Linked DNA regions of Homo sapiens: region 2 is linked to region 1. Evidence: fine-mapped expression QTL. Tissue or cell type: whole blood. Region 1 holds a variant in brackets; the other region holds the start of a gene. All regions are shown on one strand. Distances are from middle to middle.

What was found. PIP is the estimated chance that this variant, and not a neighbour inherited with it, causes the effect.
Region 2: it holds the start of SUCLG1, and the variant in region 1 is fine-mapped to the expression of SUCLG1 in whole blood (TOPMed, PIP above 0.99).

Annotation. Positions count from the first base shown.
Region 1 is chr2:84,401,874-84,410,083 of GRCh38, forward strand. No RefSeq gene overlaps it. Among named protein-coding and RNA genes, the nearest start is that of SUCLG1, 53 kb to the right of the region's middle. The variant G/C (reference allele first, on the strand shown) is at 5,029.
Region 2 is chr2:84,454,744-84,462,923 of GRCh38, forward strand. SUCLG1 (succinate-CoA ligase GDP/ADP-forming subunit alpha) reads right to left here and starts at 4,537. Exons shown (of 9, transcript NM_003849.4): 1 at 4,430-4,537. The coding sequence starts at 4,526. It also overlaps a transcript of DNAH6 not described here. RefSeq lists an enhancer at 4,574-4,713 and a silencer at 4,894-5,083.

The sequences.
Region 1 (8,210 bases):
GATTAAAGACTTAAACAGAAGACCTAAAACCATAAAATCCCCAGAAGAAAACCTAGGCAATACCATTCAGGACATAGGCATTGGCAAAGACTTCATGACTAAAACACCAAAAGCAATGGCAACAAAAGCCAAATTGACAAATGGGATCTAATTAAACTAAAGAGCTTCTGCACAGCAAAAGAAACTATCAGAGTGAACAGGCAACCTACAGAATGAGAGAAAAATTTTGCAATCTATCCATCTGACAAAGGGCTAATATCCGGAATCTACAAGGATCTAAACAAATTTACAAGAAAAAAAACAACCCCATCAAAAAGTGAGCAAAGGATATAAACAGACACTTCTCAAAAGAAGACATTTATGCAGCCAACAGACATATGAAAAAAGCTCATCATCACTGTTCATCAGAAAAATGCAAATCAAAGCCACAATGTGATACTATCTCATGCCAGTTAGAATGGCGATGATTAAAGTCAGGAAACAACATATGCTGGAGAGGATGTGGAGAAATAGGAACGCTTTTACACTGTTGGTGGGAGTGTTAATTAGTTCAACCATTCTGGAAGACAGTGTGGCAATTCCTCAAGGATCTAGAACCAGAAATACCATTTGACCCAGCAATCCCATTACTGGGTATATACTCAAAGGATTATATATCATTCTACTATGAAGACACATACACACTTATGTTTATTGCGGCACTGTTCACAGTAGCAAAGACTTGGAACCAACCCAAATGCCCATCAATGATAGACTAGATAAAGAAAATGCGGCACATATACACCATGGAATACTATCCAGCCATAAAAAAGGATGAGTTTTTGTCCTTTGCAGGGACATGGATGACGCTAGAAACCATCATTCTCAGCAAACTAACACAAGAACAGAAAACCAAATACTGCATGTTCTCACTCATAAGTGGGAGATGAACAATGAGAACACACGGACACAGGGAGGGGAACATCACTCACCAGGACCTGTCGGAGGTGGGGACTAGGGGAGGGATAGCATTAGGAGAAATACCTAATGTAGATGACAGGTTGATGAATGCAGCAAACCACCATGGCATGTGTATACCTATGTAACAAACCTGCACGTTCTGCACCAGAACTTAAAGTATAATTTTTAAAAAAGAGTTTGAATATTTTCTCATTAATTATGCCAAAGAATGAGATTATGTGCAAATATGAATACATAAAACACATTAGCACTTTATTACTGTATTACCAGTAGTTTAAATAAAATGTTCATTTTTATTAATGACAAGAACCACTGTAATGGTACAGTTTATCATGAGTACATCTGGTAAAAATATAATTGTGTTTCTCCATAGATTTCTTCACTGGTGGTCAAAGCAGGGTTCATTAGGCTTTGGTAAATAATGTGTAACTGGCTCTGTCCCTCAGATTTCTGTGATGGAAACCTCAAGGAAGGTCCTACTCTACTATAATAATCCCCAACTATTTGGAGACAATTCATCAGGGGTGTTTCTGCTGTGATTAATAAAAATAATCTGATACATAATTATTTTTCACCTCCTCTGCACTCACTCTCAATCTGGTTCTTTGAGGTCCAAGGCAAAGCACTGTGTCATGGTGCATCCCCATCTCCAGCTGACACCCAGCAATGTAGTGTACAGAGGGACCCAAAACACCTGTTGTGTGATGGTCCCACAGGAGGGAAAGACCAGTGACAGTGTCTGTACTATGTCACAGCCACACTGGGGGTGGCCGACTGGACCACATGCAGGCACCCAAGCCAAACCTGTCCAATTAGAGGACTGCTTCTGTGTTTTCTACACTGGAGGTGGAGGAGCAGGGAGCTGTGAGGAATGAACACTGAGAACTTGTGTCTCTCATTGATTTAGACCTTGGCACATGGGTAGGGACTCTCACTGAATTAAAGAAAGAATGAATAAATTGAGGCACTGTCGTTGGCACATCTTGTCAGCCTAAAGTTGTCTCCCCTCAAGGTGAGGGTCTACAGGACTCTCATTTTATCATTCCACAGGTGACACCTACTCTATTAACCATTAATATATTTACATACACAGTCAAATCTATATAAGCATGGTTTAGGTTTCAACTGGGATCCCATTACCTGACAAAATACACCCCAAAATGAAACAGGGTATTGTGTAAGGAAGTGAGTTCCTCAACTCTCAGAATATTTAGGCAGAGGCTGGAAGACCATCTGTCCCTTCCTTAGGAGGGAGGCTGGGTGAAATGACTCCTAAAGACATTTCCATCTCTAATGTTTTATTTTTCTAGTGACAGCAGAGTAATAAGTGTCATATTTCTAGGTCTTCTAGACCTCAACTTAGCTGAGAATCAGGGCTTCCTTTTGGCAATACCAATTCTAGATACGTTTGCTCTGAAAAACCAATCGTAGTCTTCAATTCTAAGACACAAATTTTTTGTACTAATATCTCTAAACTAGTGATGTGTCTTCTAACCAGTGACTTGTCATTGTTAAATTTCCAGCACTTCGCTTTTTATTCCTTAGTGGCATATAAATGATAGCATGCCTAACAATTGATGATGTCTTAGATTCAATTGAATATGTTAGGTCTTTCACAGGTTCCTCTGATGCAAGCATAGTCAATGTGTTCTGTTGCTTTTCTTGTGATTCTCGAATATGTATATATAATCTACTCTTTTAGCTATATACACACACAGGTTTTGCAGGCAAGCCTGCTGGATACTCCAAGTTCTCAGATTAAAATTTTACCCATCTTGAAAAAAGAAAAATTTTTTTACCCATCTTGTTAACAAAGACTCTTCTACTTCTTAAGTAGTAAGGGACCCAAGTCCCATCTAACTCTCTCCTTGAAATTTCTTCTTCACCAGAGAGAAACTAAAATCCAGAGAGACATTCCAAACAATGTGAATCATTAAGCAAGCCACCAATTCCAGACCTTGAGAATTTCTAAACTGCCTAGGACTGGGGGCTTCCTAACCTGAATCTGTGAGCTGTAGGATATTCTGATTTTGAAATGGAGGGTAAATTTCATAAGAAGAAATGCTTGAAAAACAAAATGCCACATCTCTTACTCCCTGTTCATTTATATTCCTTCCTGGATTCCTATGGCAGATATGCCCTAAGGTGCCCCTGGCGAGTCCCACCCTTCTACAATCCCCTCGAGTTGGGGCAGAATCTGTGCCTTGCTTCTCACCAATAAAATACTGCCAAGGTGACAGGATGTCACTTTAATTATGTTACACTATATAAGACCATCTTAGCCTACTAGAATACGCAAACAGCCATGTGTGACTTGCCTGTGGCAGGACCATGTGGCAGAGAATAGCCTCCACTCAACAACAGGTTAAGAAGCTGAGGCCTTCAGTCACACTGCAAGGAAATGAATCCTGCCAACAATCTGAGTGAGCTCAGAAGTGGATATTTTCTCAGATGAGCCTCCAGATGAGAACACAGTCTGGGGAGACCCTGGCAGAGGGACTAGTCAAGCAGTGCCCAGATTCCTGACCCATGCAAACTGTGAGATAATATGTGTTGTTTTAAGTGGCTACATTTGTGGTAATTTGTTATTGCCGTAGTAGAAAACTAACACAATCTCCCTTCTGCTCCTTTACCTCCTTCTTTCCTTTTTGTCATTGTGTCTGCAAACATTCATTCATCCACTAAATTTATATATATATTTAGAATCTACACTGTTTAAACAGAGGACAAAACGGACCAGGCTTCAAGGATACAATAAGGATTAAAACAAAGTATTTGCCTTCTTGGAATTTACATTCTGATGGAGGAAGACAGACAATAGACACATAAGCAACGATTTTTGATGATAGTGGTAGTTTGAGAAATAAAAATAACAGCGGAATGTGGTTTAATCCCCTCTTATGATTTGCTTTTAATTTTTATTCCCCTTTCCTGTCTCTTTTTCAGTATGGATGACAACTCATTGGATAAAATAAAACTCATGCTATCAACATAGTATATGACCCAATAATTATTCATTTACACACAAAGATGAACAAGTAGTTGAAGGATAAATTATCGTGAGAAGAAAATGTTCCAGGGAGGCTGGAAACATAGAAATGAACAAGAGCTGGTACCAGGACTGTTTTTAAATAAGAAGGTTTTTAATTACATACTTCAACCAGCCCTCTTCTGGCTTTGCTTTTCTGCATAAAGATTTATACCAGCACATTCTGCACATGCAGACAACTTGCACAATCCCCACCAAGAATAACTAACTCTTCTCTCCTCCTCACCTCTTTCTCTCTGTCTTTTAACCAGTTGTATGCAGCATTAAGGAATCTGGGAACCATGTTACAGAAGGATCAGGTGGAGGAATTTGAGTTTTTAGCTAAGCAGAAAGCTAAACCAATGTGCTAACAGGGAATTTAAATCAATGGGCTCAAGTTACAAATAGGTTTCAGACAAGTCTAATTTCTTTAATAGTTGGAATTTGTTCAAAATGGAATGAGTTCCCTAAAAAACTTATCCCTGGTGGGATTCAAGCAGAACCTATCCACCTTCCTCTTATGGTTGTGAGAAGCTATTTCTCTATGGGCTAGAAAATAGGTCCTTTAAGGCCCTTAAAGGACTTTAATCATGTAATCTGAGCTGGAATGTTAAAAGCTAGTGATGAATTAATTTGTTATCCCTCTGTATCTGGGTTCAGTTGCAGAAGACAGAATCTTCTCTAGCTACTTGAGACAGAAAAAAAAATTATTCTGTGTAATTAGGTGGCTGGCAGAAATGCCAAAAGAGCAGGCTCAAGGTTGAGATTTCAAGAACAACTTTTAAAACTACCCATCAGAACTTACCCTCCGAGAGAGCATCTGCCACGTCAGAAAGCAAGCCAAGGGATCAGGGAGCCGCACCACAAATGCTTGTTCCAGTACCACACTGCCTCTGCCATAATTGGCAGCAGCAGAATGGAAGCACCTCCCTCCCTGTGTCCATGCCACCTTCCCTATCCCATGGACATGTGTCTGCCTGGTGAAAGAGGGTATTTGCAGAGCCCAAGATATAAGAAACATAGGCTTCTGGTACAAGGGC[G/C]ACTCAGTAGGATTGAGAGATACAGGGTTCTCCAAATCCTCCCAAATGTGGTAATTCCCAATTTTAGATTCCTACTCCTTCTCATAAATGCTCAACTTTCACAGGTGATCTGGTGAGGCTGTGAGCTCCACCTGTGTTGTAATTAATATACCCCCCTCCCCCAACACACACACAACAGACACTGCAGATGATTTTGATTATATAAACTCTGCATCAACAAGGGATAAGAGATTATTTTAGGGCAGAAGAAACTCACTAGTTCTCTAAGCCTCAAAATAAAAAATTTGAAATGCCAAGTCTTTTTAAGTTTTCAAATGCTGTTGTAAGTAGCCAGCACATCCCCATGGTCCACGTATTGCTATTGCAACTATATTGTCACTCAGTCCATGAGAGCCATGAGTCCAATTGGCACTTTTTCCAGATTACCCTGGAACTTATGTAACAAAGTTTTGTTTCTCCTGGTCATGATCTACCAGTAGCCCCTCCTGTACCGGTTACTGGAACCCAGGGGCCTTCAAACCCAACTAACCCATGGAATCCCCCCGTTTCCCATCCCTGAATGTTTGTTACCTACAATCACTTCTAGCAGCGATTACTCCAGGTTCAGGGCACACAGCAGAATTCATTCTGGCAAGTTTTAGTATAAAGGAACTTAGAATTTATTATTAGGTGACTTATTTAAAAAAACTAGCATAATTGAGCTGAGCTCCCAGGAATGACTCTCAGAACAATGCAGAACTTGCCCACCTAGACAACTGCTGCCTATGCTGTGATCAGGAAACTGGGATCAAGAAGCCACCAATTAGCACCAAAATTGCCTACTTCTGGTGTTATCAGAAATTAGGTATTAATATTTGCTTCTCAATACCCACAAAGCTGAAACCAGACACTAGGCCCTCTGCTACAAGATGCTATAGAATTTTTTAAAGCACCTCCACAACTATATTTGCCTCACAGTGTTCACTTCCTTCTTCTAATCTTGCATGAGCGTATCAGCTAGGAGAAAGCTGGGTCATTTGTAAAACCAAAACACAAGGGAGTCTAAGAAATGCAGCATTATGTTCAGATTTGCAGCCCCTACCTTTCAGTTAGACACGATATCTGAGTCTCATCCTCAAAGAATCAGCAGCCCGGACATCAGGAGTTTTAAAAGCTTCTCAGGTGACTTAATGTTCAACCAGGTGAAAATCATTGACTCATCAGAGCCCTACTCAGCCACACATAGGCTGTCCTGGGCCAGAGACTTAAAACTAAAGTCATCACAAAGACTCCAAACATCTGTGTGATCAAGAAACTCATGGGAAGTGATCAAGAAACTCATGGGAAGTTTGTTTAGTGAAGACAACCCTATATGCAACACACTTGCCTTCTATCTGGCGAAATTAAGGTATACCTTCTAGTTAGAAGGATTTGCCTAACTTTATAAAACAGACTGGTTGGATTCACATTATGCCAATGTGTAGGAATGCTTCATCTAAACAAGGGATGTCCAATCTTTAAAGGCTTCCCTGGGCCACATTGGAAGAAGAAGAATTGTCCTGGGCCAGAAGGATAGCTGATGAGCTTTAAAAAATCACACACACAAAAAAAAAACCTCATAATGTTTTTAAAAAATTTACAAATTTGTGTTGGGCCGCATTCAAAGCCACCACAGGCTGCAAATTGGAGAAACTTGATCTAAACACTTTTTACATCCATTACAAAACAATTTTTAGGAAACAATTCAGTTCCACACATGTTATTAGGATATACTGCAGGGGTTGAGTATAGAAACACCAATAAAATTATTCCTACTGTCACAGACTCTACAACCTAGCCATGTAAAGTATTCAGAGAGCTTATATTTGCTTTTATTATTACCAACAGATACCATTTGTTGACTATTTGCTATGTACTCAGTACAATCATTTTACAAACATTCTTCATTTAATCCTCACAAGAAAATCTAGTGATATATATACGATTCTTTCCATTTGGCAAATAAAGATTTTGAGGCTCAGAGAGTTAAGTGACTTGCCCAGAATCACACATATGGTAAGTATTAATATTGAGAATCAAACCTAGGCCTTCTGATTGCAAATTGAACGACCACCTAGAATCCCAGTTTGAAAGGCCTAAGGCTAGATAAATGTCACTTTTACCTGGTGACAATTCCATTGTAAATATTCTGACTCCCCAAATAATCAAGTTCCAAATCACCTTGGCCCCACAGGCTGCAGACCTCATTTAATCCTGCCTGCTTTGCTGACTAGAGAGTATAGGGAATCAAAGGAGAAACCCCAGGCCCCACTTCTCTTTCAAAGTTTTGCAAGCCACAGGGACTTTGGGGGGTTATTCCTTCCACATTTGTGTATGACAAAAATGGATCATAGCCTGGAGCAAAGCTTCTGTGCTTGAGTTTGTAACAGAAAAATTAGACGAGTTTCAGCAGAGACTCTACAAAAGCATCTCCAGAAGATGCCACAGCCATGTTTGTTTCTCCAAGACAATAGTCTCATCCCTGGCTGCACATTAGAATCACCTGGGAGAATTCAAAACACCTAGTGGCAGACCCACCACCTAGATCATGCTGTAATCGCACTGGTGTGAGGCCCAGGTGTTGGAAGCTTCCCCAGCAGTCTCCTGTGCATAATCTGAGGATCACAGCTTCAGTGTATTAGGTGCTTCTTAGAACTGCCAACAAAATAAACGTGAATTTCTTGCTTCCTCACCAACAAGGACAGGGAAGAAGATACCAAGAATAGCAGGAGCTCATAGATTCTTTCCCTAGCTCAGCTACTAAAGTGGAAAATAAACCATGCATGCCAAAGTAGGTCCTAGACACTTTAGAGCAAATAGTTGGCAAAATCACAACATGTGTACTGCAATAGCACTGGGAGAGCATAAGAGGACTTTTTAAATTGTTACGTCTTTAAGCACTTATCTATGTCTGACACAAATGATAAAAAAACAAAAATAATAAGGTAAAAACATGCAAAATAAAAGCAAACTAAACCATAATGCAATGTGATTTCACTCAGTGCCATGGGAGTATCTGTTCATTTATTCATTAGATATTCAATATGCACATACTGTGTGCCAGGCAGAGTCCACCATGGCCAATGCGGGTGAACAAAACAGTTTATCTCTACTTTCATCAACCTTACAGCTTATGGGAGAGATAGATATTAAACAGATAAGGA
Region 2 (8,180 bases), 53 kb after region 1:
CTGGTCCTCTTTACCACAGATAGTAACACATCATTTATAAAATGGCTGGTGGGATGAATGATGCAATCTATGGTCAAAGAGCACCTGCCCAGGAGAGACTCAAACCATGGGCCTTGTATGACCAGTACCATGCTCCTAACCAATAACCCAAGGCTCTATTCATGAAATACTCAATACTCCTTCAACTCACCTCTCAAACTGTGTCCCTGGTAAACATTTATTCGTGCACGTACTCATGAATTTAACAAATGTACACTTATTAACCATATGTATTATGCATATGTAAGACACAGGCTACTGCAGTCTACACCTACAGGACCTTATAATACAGCAGAGTAGCTAGCAGCCACTTACCCCTAAACTCCAAACAACCCACTATTCAAATGTTAAATTATATATTCATTTAATATTGACTTACGAGTGAAGTTTAATAAGCTGTAAGTACCATATTTCATCAAATATAAAACACCATTGATTTTTAAGAAGTACTATTAATTACTGGTAAAAAAGAAAAAATGAGGCGGGCGGATCACCTGAGGTCAGGAGTTTGAGACCAGCCTGACCAACATGGAGAAACCCCGTCTCTACTAAAAATACAAAATTAGCCGGACATGGTGGCACATGCCTGTAATCCCAGCTAGTCGGGAGGCTGAGGCAGGAGAATGGCTTGAGCCCAGGAGGCAGAGGATGCGGTGAGCTGAGATTGTGCCATTGCACTCCAGCCTGAGCAATAAGAGCAAAACTCTGTCTCAAAAAAAACATATATATCAGTAATAAGACACAACCTAATGTAAGAAATGTTATAATGTAAAAAAATGTGGGTCTATCACGCCTGTAATCCCAGCACTTTGGGAGGCTGAGGTGGGCGGATCACAATGTCAGGAGATCGAGACCATCCTGGCTAACACAGTGAAACCCCATCTCTACTAAAAATACAAAAAAATTAGCCAGGTGTGGTGGCGGGTGCCTGTAGTCCCAGCTACTGGGGAGGCTGAGGCAGGAGAACGGCTTGAACCTGGGAGGCGGAGCTTGCAGTGAGCAGAGATCACGCCACTGCACTCCAGCCTGGGCGACAGAGCAAGACTCCGTCTCAAAACAAAAAAAAAAAAAAAAAATGTGGGTCTATGGTATGCCAGTCCCCTGATGAAATGAAATTGTTGCCCTGTACTTAAATTATTTTTAATATTCCCAATTACATTTCTATGGAGAAACAAATTTGATGTCAGAAAATCAAATCACTTTCTCATGGCTACACTGGTACATCTGAATCAAGGCTATTTTGTATTTCTGAAATAAAGATTTGGTTATTACATGCAATGGCAACAGATGCTAATATCCACAACATCACTGTTGAGGATCTCATTTTCCAAACTACACTTTAAATGCATCTCTGATTCGAAAAACAGGCCTACGCACTTGGCAAACACGGGGAAAAGGAAGGCAACACCTTTGAGCAGGATAGTCACCTTCTCAACACATCACTAAGACTGCCAAAAAAAAATCAGAGCTTCGAAAAAAGCTTAAGTTATCACATGGTACATGCTGGCGGAAAGGATACTGCAGAGTCAGAAGACCTGGGTGCTAGTATCACTTCTGATACTCACTGGAAACTTTTGGGATTTCCTCATCTGCCGTACAAAGGTATGGGACCAGTTGGGTTTTAAGGTTTACTTTCTGGCATTAAAATACCAAAATTCTGAGGTTCAAAAATACTGGCTTTTATTCCCTATTTATTCTAAAAGATTCAAGTTACAGAAACTACTGACCAGTTTTAAAAAGACCTTGCATTACTTTATGCTTCTCTTAAAACTTCACTATTTCAACTTCAAGGGTGCTTATGAAATCCTTAAACTTTCTCATGGAAGAACTCTTCCTCATTTTTCATTGTATTTTCTCTCTCCACTTCAACTGGATCCTTTTCCTTTTTTCTCTTTTTCTGAGACAGAGTCTCACTCTGTTGCCCAGGCTGGAGTACAGTGGCACGATCTCAGCTCACTGCAAGCTCCACCTCCCGGGTTCAAGCAATTCTCCTGCCTTAGCCTCCTGAGTAGCTGGGATTACAGGCGCCTGCCACCACACCTGGCTAATTTTTGTATTTTTAGTAGAGACGGGGTTTCACCATCTTGGCCAGGCTGGTCTTGAACTCCTGACCTTGTGATCTACCCGCCTCAGCCTCCCAAAGTGCTGGGATTACAGGCATGAGCCACCGTGCCAGGCCACTTTTCCTTTTTTCATAAGCTATAAAACAGGGCTCCGGAAGGCATCTACCAGTGTTCACTTGAGTTTTTTCTGTGGCTGTTAACTCTAATCAATATTGCAACACTATGACCTTCAGCAAGTAATGTACCATAAGTTGAAACTTAACAGAGGGAACAAAATTCCCTAACATCTGTAGCTCTATTAGCTTCACAGACTAAATAATTTCTGGTCCCTTTTTAAAAAAAAAGTTTGCAAGGTGATGTTGTAGCTGCTATTTTTCTAGTGGGAGTGAAAATGGGCTCGGAAATGTGGCATGGGAAAGAGGAGTTAGAGTTTTGTGAATTTAGAGGTGTTTACACATTAAGCATTGTTGTCTGTAACCCCTCTTAATATAGAATACATCTTGGTTTAAATCTCAGACCCGTAATAACAAGTTAATCACATGACTTGAATAATTCAAGCCCACTCCAGTAACAAAACTAAACCAGATGGTCACTCTAGGGCCAAATGATCCTGGGAGTCTAGGAAGAACACACTTCCAGTTCTGTGGGAAGAGGATTGAGAGGACTGCTAAGGGTGGAGTAAGGAACTAGATCTTTTAGACACTCTTCCTTTATTCTCTAGATTTTTCTAGACAGCAGACCTACCTGAGGCTAGGATCTTTCAGAACCTCAGACTAGCAAGACCACAGAAGCGAAAGACACAGGTGGGCAACTTCTTCCTAGGGTTTCCCACCACAGTGGCTGTGCTGCACATCTGATCTTCTACATTCTAACCCACTATCTATTCAAATTAAGCTGGTTTAAAACCATATCCAATATACTTCATTCTTGGTGCTCAAACTTTATTGACCTGAGTGATTACTGGGTATAATGAATTCTTTTTGTCCTTCTGCCTACAACACTCTCAAGAATCTCCAGAAAGCTTTACCAAACAAACCATTTCATACTTGCTAACGTTATCTAGCCAGACCTTTGTCCTCAAGTGATTGGCAACTAAGTGTTAGCTATTGAGTGCACACTCATCAATGTACACTTTCAGAATGTAATCTTCTCAAGAAAGGAATTAAGTCTCATAAAATATTCAGTACAAGCAGAATTAAGAGCAAAGCGGAAAAAGAAAACTAACTTTGAGTGTTTGTTACATACGAGATGCTTTATATAAATTGCTCCACTTATTCTGCAGTGAACCCAGATCATCCTGTACATCATCATTGCTAAAATGCACATTTTTTTTCACTTTTTAAAAAACCAGGATACATGTGACAACCACTGGTGTGTCACAGTTTTAATAAGCAATCGTTCTTCATTGTTAGTGGTAAACAAAATAATGGTCCACCTTACAAGTGATGGTGCTTCAGGCCCCTTAAAATGTGTTAATATTTTCATGTGATTGGAAACACTGAAAAACAGATTAAGTGTCCAGGGTTATTACACAGACTGAAAAGGGACTAGCCAGACTTCAAACCCTGATGTGGCTGATTCCAAAGTTTCTTTCTACTATAACCTACCTGACAAGCACAGAGACTTTGAATATGGCAAGAATTTTCCATAGTCAGCGTGTCTCAAAGACTAGCAACCTTGGGTACTAAGTTTTCGGGAACGGATGTGTCCACAAATCGCCTGGTGGAGACACTGCAAATAAGCTGGTTTAGGTCCCAGCCAACCATAAGCTTCTAGTAGTCTATGCGGCTATGCCGACCCCACTCCGTGTGCAGAAACCATCTTTCCCTGACATACAATCCTGCAGAGGGGGAATTCGAAGTGCAGGACCTTTCCGTACTAGGGACAGCCTCATCCCCCAACTTCCTACTGAGACACTCTTCCTCTACCTCTCAACCCAGACCCTTACCTTCCCCACCAAGTTCACCTTGGACCTCTTCATCCCCAACTCCAAATAAGGCCAGTCTAGACGCCACCCCCATCCTGTCATTTGTCACCGCGGGGCCGAGAGCAAGCTCCCAAATTTGCAGGGCTCCCGGACCCGAATCCTGGCTCAGCCACCCAATATCTCCATCTGCCAGCGGCCTAAGTCATGCCCCCCGCCCCACGTATCCAGCAAAGCTCCTTCCACCGTAGGGGTCCCCGACTCGAAGCCGGAATCCCAAGCGGCTCCCAGGCCCCCGCCGAGGTCCAGCCCTGAGGGCCCAGCCGCGGCCTGGGCCAGGAGGTTGGGTCCGGCGGGGCCAATAACCCGCGGGCGCCAGGAAGACAGTACTGGCTGGACTCACGGAGGAAGCTGCGCGACAGGAGACGGGCGGCGGCGAGGCCGCTGCTGCCGGAGACCATGGTAGCGATGTCAGCGGCAGCGGCAAGGGTTGCGGTCATACGCCAATGACACTCCCAGGCCCCCGGGGACCTCCCAGGGGCAGAGGCCGGAGGAGGCAGAGGGTGGCCACAGCAGTCGCCTGAACAAATTTCCCTTTACAGAGGATTCTTCACGAAACAGCGGGAATGGCAGGTGAAGACAAAGAGGCATCCTATCGGAGAGGCAGATAATAACTCGGCTCCTTCCTAGAAATGTGGGTTTGATTAACATTAATTATAACAGCAGCTGAGGGAAAACCCCACGCGAGACTGGCCAGCGCGTGGCATTGTGGGCAATGTAGTCTGACGGCCGCGACTGGTTCGTAGCTTTTGAGTGAGGCGGCGGGAAGGGAGCGAGGGAAGAGCGGCAGTGAGACCGGGGAGACAAGGGACTTGAAGACTAGGAGGGAAGAAACAGCGAGGTGAGGTGCGAAGAGCAGTGCCAGAACTTTGTATCCCAGGCCCATCTCCTTCCCCCTTCGTTTTCCTCGTTTGCTATTAGAGAGAATAATATTTCTCACCGCGTACCTGTGCCTGGACCCGGAAGGGTTGCCGCTGGGGACGGGAATTCGAACTGGCACTGGTGGCCTGTGAAGGGAAAGATGTGATGAGAAAGACCAAAACCTATCTTACTGACAGTTAACTTCTTGGAATGTGAATTTTTTTAGTTAAATAATCATGCAGTCTTTGACTAGCACTAAGTGCATGAGTGTTTATTCCCTGAGGATCCTAAGGGCTGAAATTCGAGGTCAAATGTGACTTTGCTCCCTGATTGGACAAACAGTTCCCTCTTCTGTAACAGCTTTAGAAGGAACCTCAGAGAGTCCCAGAGTCAAAAGGTAAACAAGAGATGAAGTAATCTGCGTCTCTGCCGAAAATCGTGCTCCTGAGATTCCTCATCAGAATTGTCAATAAAATTGCAATCCTAATTTACTTAGGTAGTCATTATAATTGGCACTGAGCTGTGGGATGGATGAGTGGGATTACCCCAGGAGATTGCCCAATACTTCCTTTATGATCCAAATATTGTCATTAACAGGTTGGACTTCACTGCAAATAAACTCCTCCCTCATGGATCATGTTCTTGTGATAACTAAATTCCTCAGAGTTAAATAGTATCAGTGGTTTCCAGATATATCCATTATAACAAAATGGACATTTTTATGGCAAATAAATAGAAAATCCCTTGCTATTTTAAATAGCAAAATTATTCCTGAGCTGTCGCTTGATAAGTTATATGTTTAGTTTCATTTAATTGATAAAATGCATGATGACAAAAAATATAATTTCAGTACACTTTTAATGAAAATTTGTATTTCCATGAAGACGGGGATTTTTGTTTGTTTTGTATCCTGGAGTATCCCCAGCACCTAGAACAATGCCTTACACAAATAACTCATCGTTGAATTGAATTGATATATATAGGAGAAATAGTAGTATATAGATTATTTTTTGGATCCACAGGCAATGTTTGATGGACTTAGGATATTTCAACCTCTTGTAATAACTGCACCCCTGTGGCAGACCAGGTCTCACTAACGCAGGCCTCCATAACAATGTTTCAGTGCTGACTGAGTGGTTAAGTTAAATATTAAAAGCCAGTGCCCTTATACAAAGGCTGAGATGTAACAGAAACCCACCAAGGGTTTTGCCTAGGCCTTTCCTGGGCCTTGAAGCATGACAAATTAATGAAGAAATTCTTAACAGGACCCATTTAGGATTAAACAAGTTTTATTGGAGGTCCGAAGAAACTCCCCAGGCCTCCACAAACAAGTTTATTGGAGGTCTGAAAGAACTCTCCAAACCTCTGTGATTTAGCAGGGGATAAGATAAGGGTAATCACCCCAGCACCTAAACCCATGTAGATTAAGTAAATTTATTGAGGCTTCAGAGGATGGTCTTCAGTACTCAGACCTTAGTTATAGATTAAAAGAAGTTAATCACTTATGTCTTTAGATAAATGCACACTTACAAGTAAACATATAGCTTAGAAGGTATATAAGCTCTGGAAAACTGTAATTTTAAGTTGGTCTGATGATAATTTCCAGGCCTTCTCCCTGTAATCGGTTGCAGAAATAAAAACTCTCTTCCTCCCCAGTTCATCTACATCTCATTATTGGGCCACAAAAAATAGCAGCCCAACCCTCAGTTTGGTCCGGGAACACCCCTACCTCAATTCTGTAGCTCATAGGTAGGGGACAACCACACTAGTCAATACCACACCACTCATCTTTGTATGCAGATTGAGTTTGGAAATCAGACAGGTCTGGGTTCAAATTCCAACTCTGCCACTGGCTACATGACCTCTGGGTTTCAGGTTTTATTACTGAGATGGGTATGAAACTCCCTATTTCATAAGAGTGTTGTGAACATTTAATACATTTAGTATATAAAGCTACTGTCACCTTGTACCAAATAGTCGATAATGGTAGTTATTATCATTAAAGAACTGTCTTTTTTACATGGCAGGATCATGTTTTAAAGGTTTTAACTAAAGTGAGTAACCAAATTAGAATAGGATATTTCTATTTGTCTCAAAACTTTGTCTAAAGCTCTAAAGCTGAAGACAACAAGCCTTACCTCCACATCCATAAGGAGGGCAGTCTAGGAGCTACTTCTCTCTGAAGTTTGATAGGAAGTGGCCAAACTTGTCTTTGAATTCTCACCCCCACATCCCAGCCGGCTCAGATAAGCAAAAGACTAGAATTCACTGTATGAGGGTGTGAAAGGAAAATAAATCTCGGGACCCCAAAGTCATCAAGCCAAGAGAAAAGTCCAGCTGGGAACTGCCTGAGGCAAACCTACCTCCCATTTTATTCCTAAATAATATAGCTACAAAGATAATAAGCTACATACCTCCCTCACAATTTGCCCACAGGAAATTCCTGGTGGATAAAGGACAGGCAGAACTCAGTCATCACTCTGAGGCTCACCTGAGACAGATGCATATCTGATTGCTCCCTCTGCCCTATTGTTTATGTAAAAATGCAGATTCACTGAGCCAGACTAAATTGTGTATTCAGTGGAAGGCTGATCAAGGACTCAAAAGAATGCAACCTTTTGTCTCTTATCTACTTCTAACCAGGAAGTCCCTGCCTTACTGGATGGACCAATGTACATCTTACAAATATTGATTGATATGTCATGCCTTCCTAAAATGTATAAAAGCAAGCTGTACCCCCAACCACCTTGGGCACCTGTCATCCAGACTTCCTGAGTCACGAGTGCATCCTTAACCTTGGCAAAATAAATTTTCTAAATTGACTGAGACCTGTCTCAGATATTTTGGATTAACAAGGGGACTGATGCTTCTGAGTCTACAGTTGGCAGTTTAATGTTCTTGTTTCCTTCCACTCCCAGCCAAGTTTGTGGGTGAGGGCTTCTTACCAAAACATTACTGGTATTAAATCTCAGGATAAATCCCTATAGAACTGCAGAAATTCATGAGTCCACCTTAGTTAGCTAGATAGGTCTTGGTCAGAGAATGCTTGAGGAAACCTGAATTTGGAAGGCAGGCCTAACTGTTAAGGCTATGTCTGCCTCCTTCCTAGAGAATTGCAATGGCAGGAAGCTAGCTGGAGCAGTCCTCATCAGCAGGCAGGGCAATATTTGGTGTATCAAGATGTGTTAATATTCCTGTGAGTAAAATGCATACCAAGAAAGAAAGTTGAACCT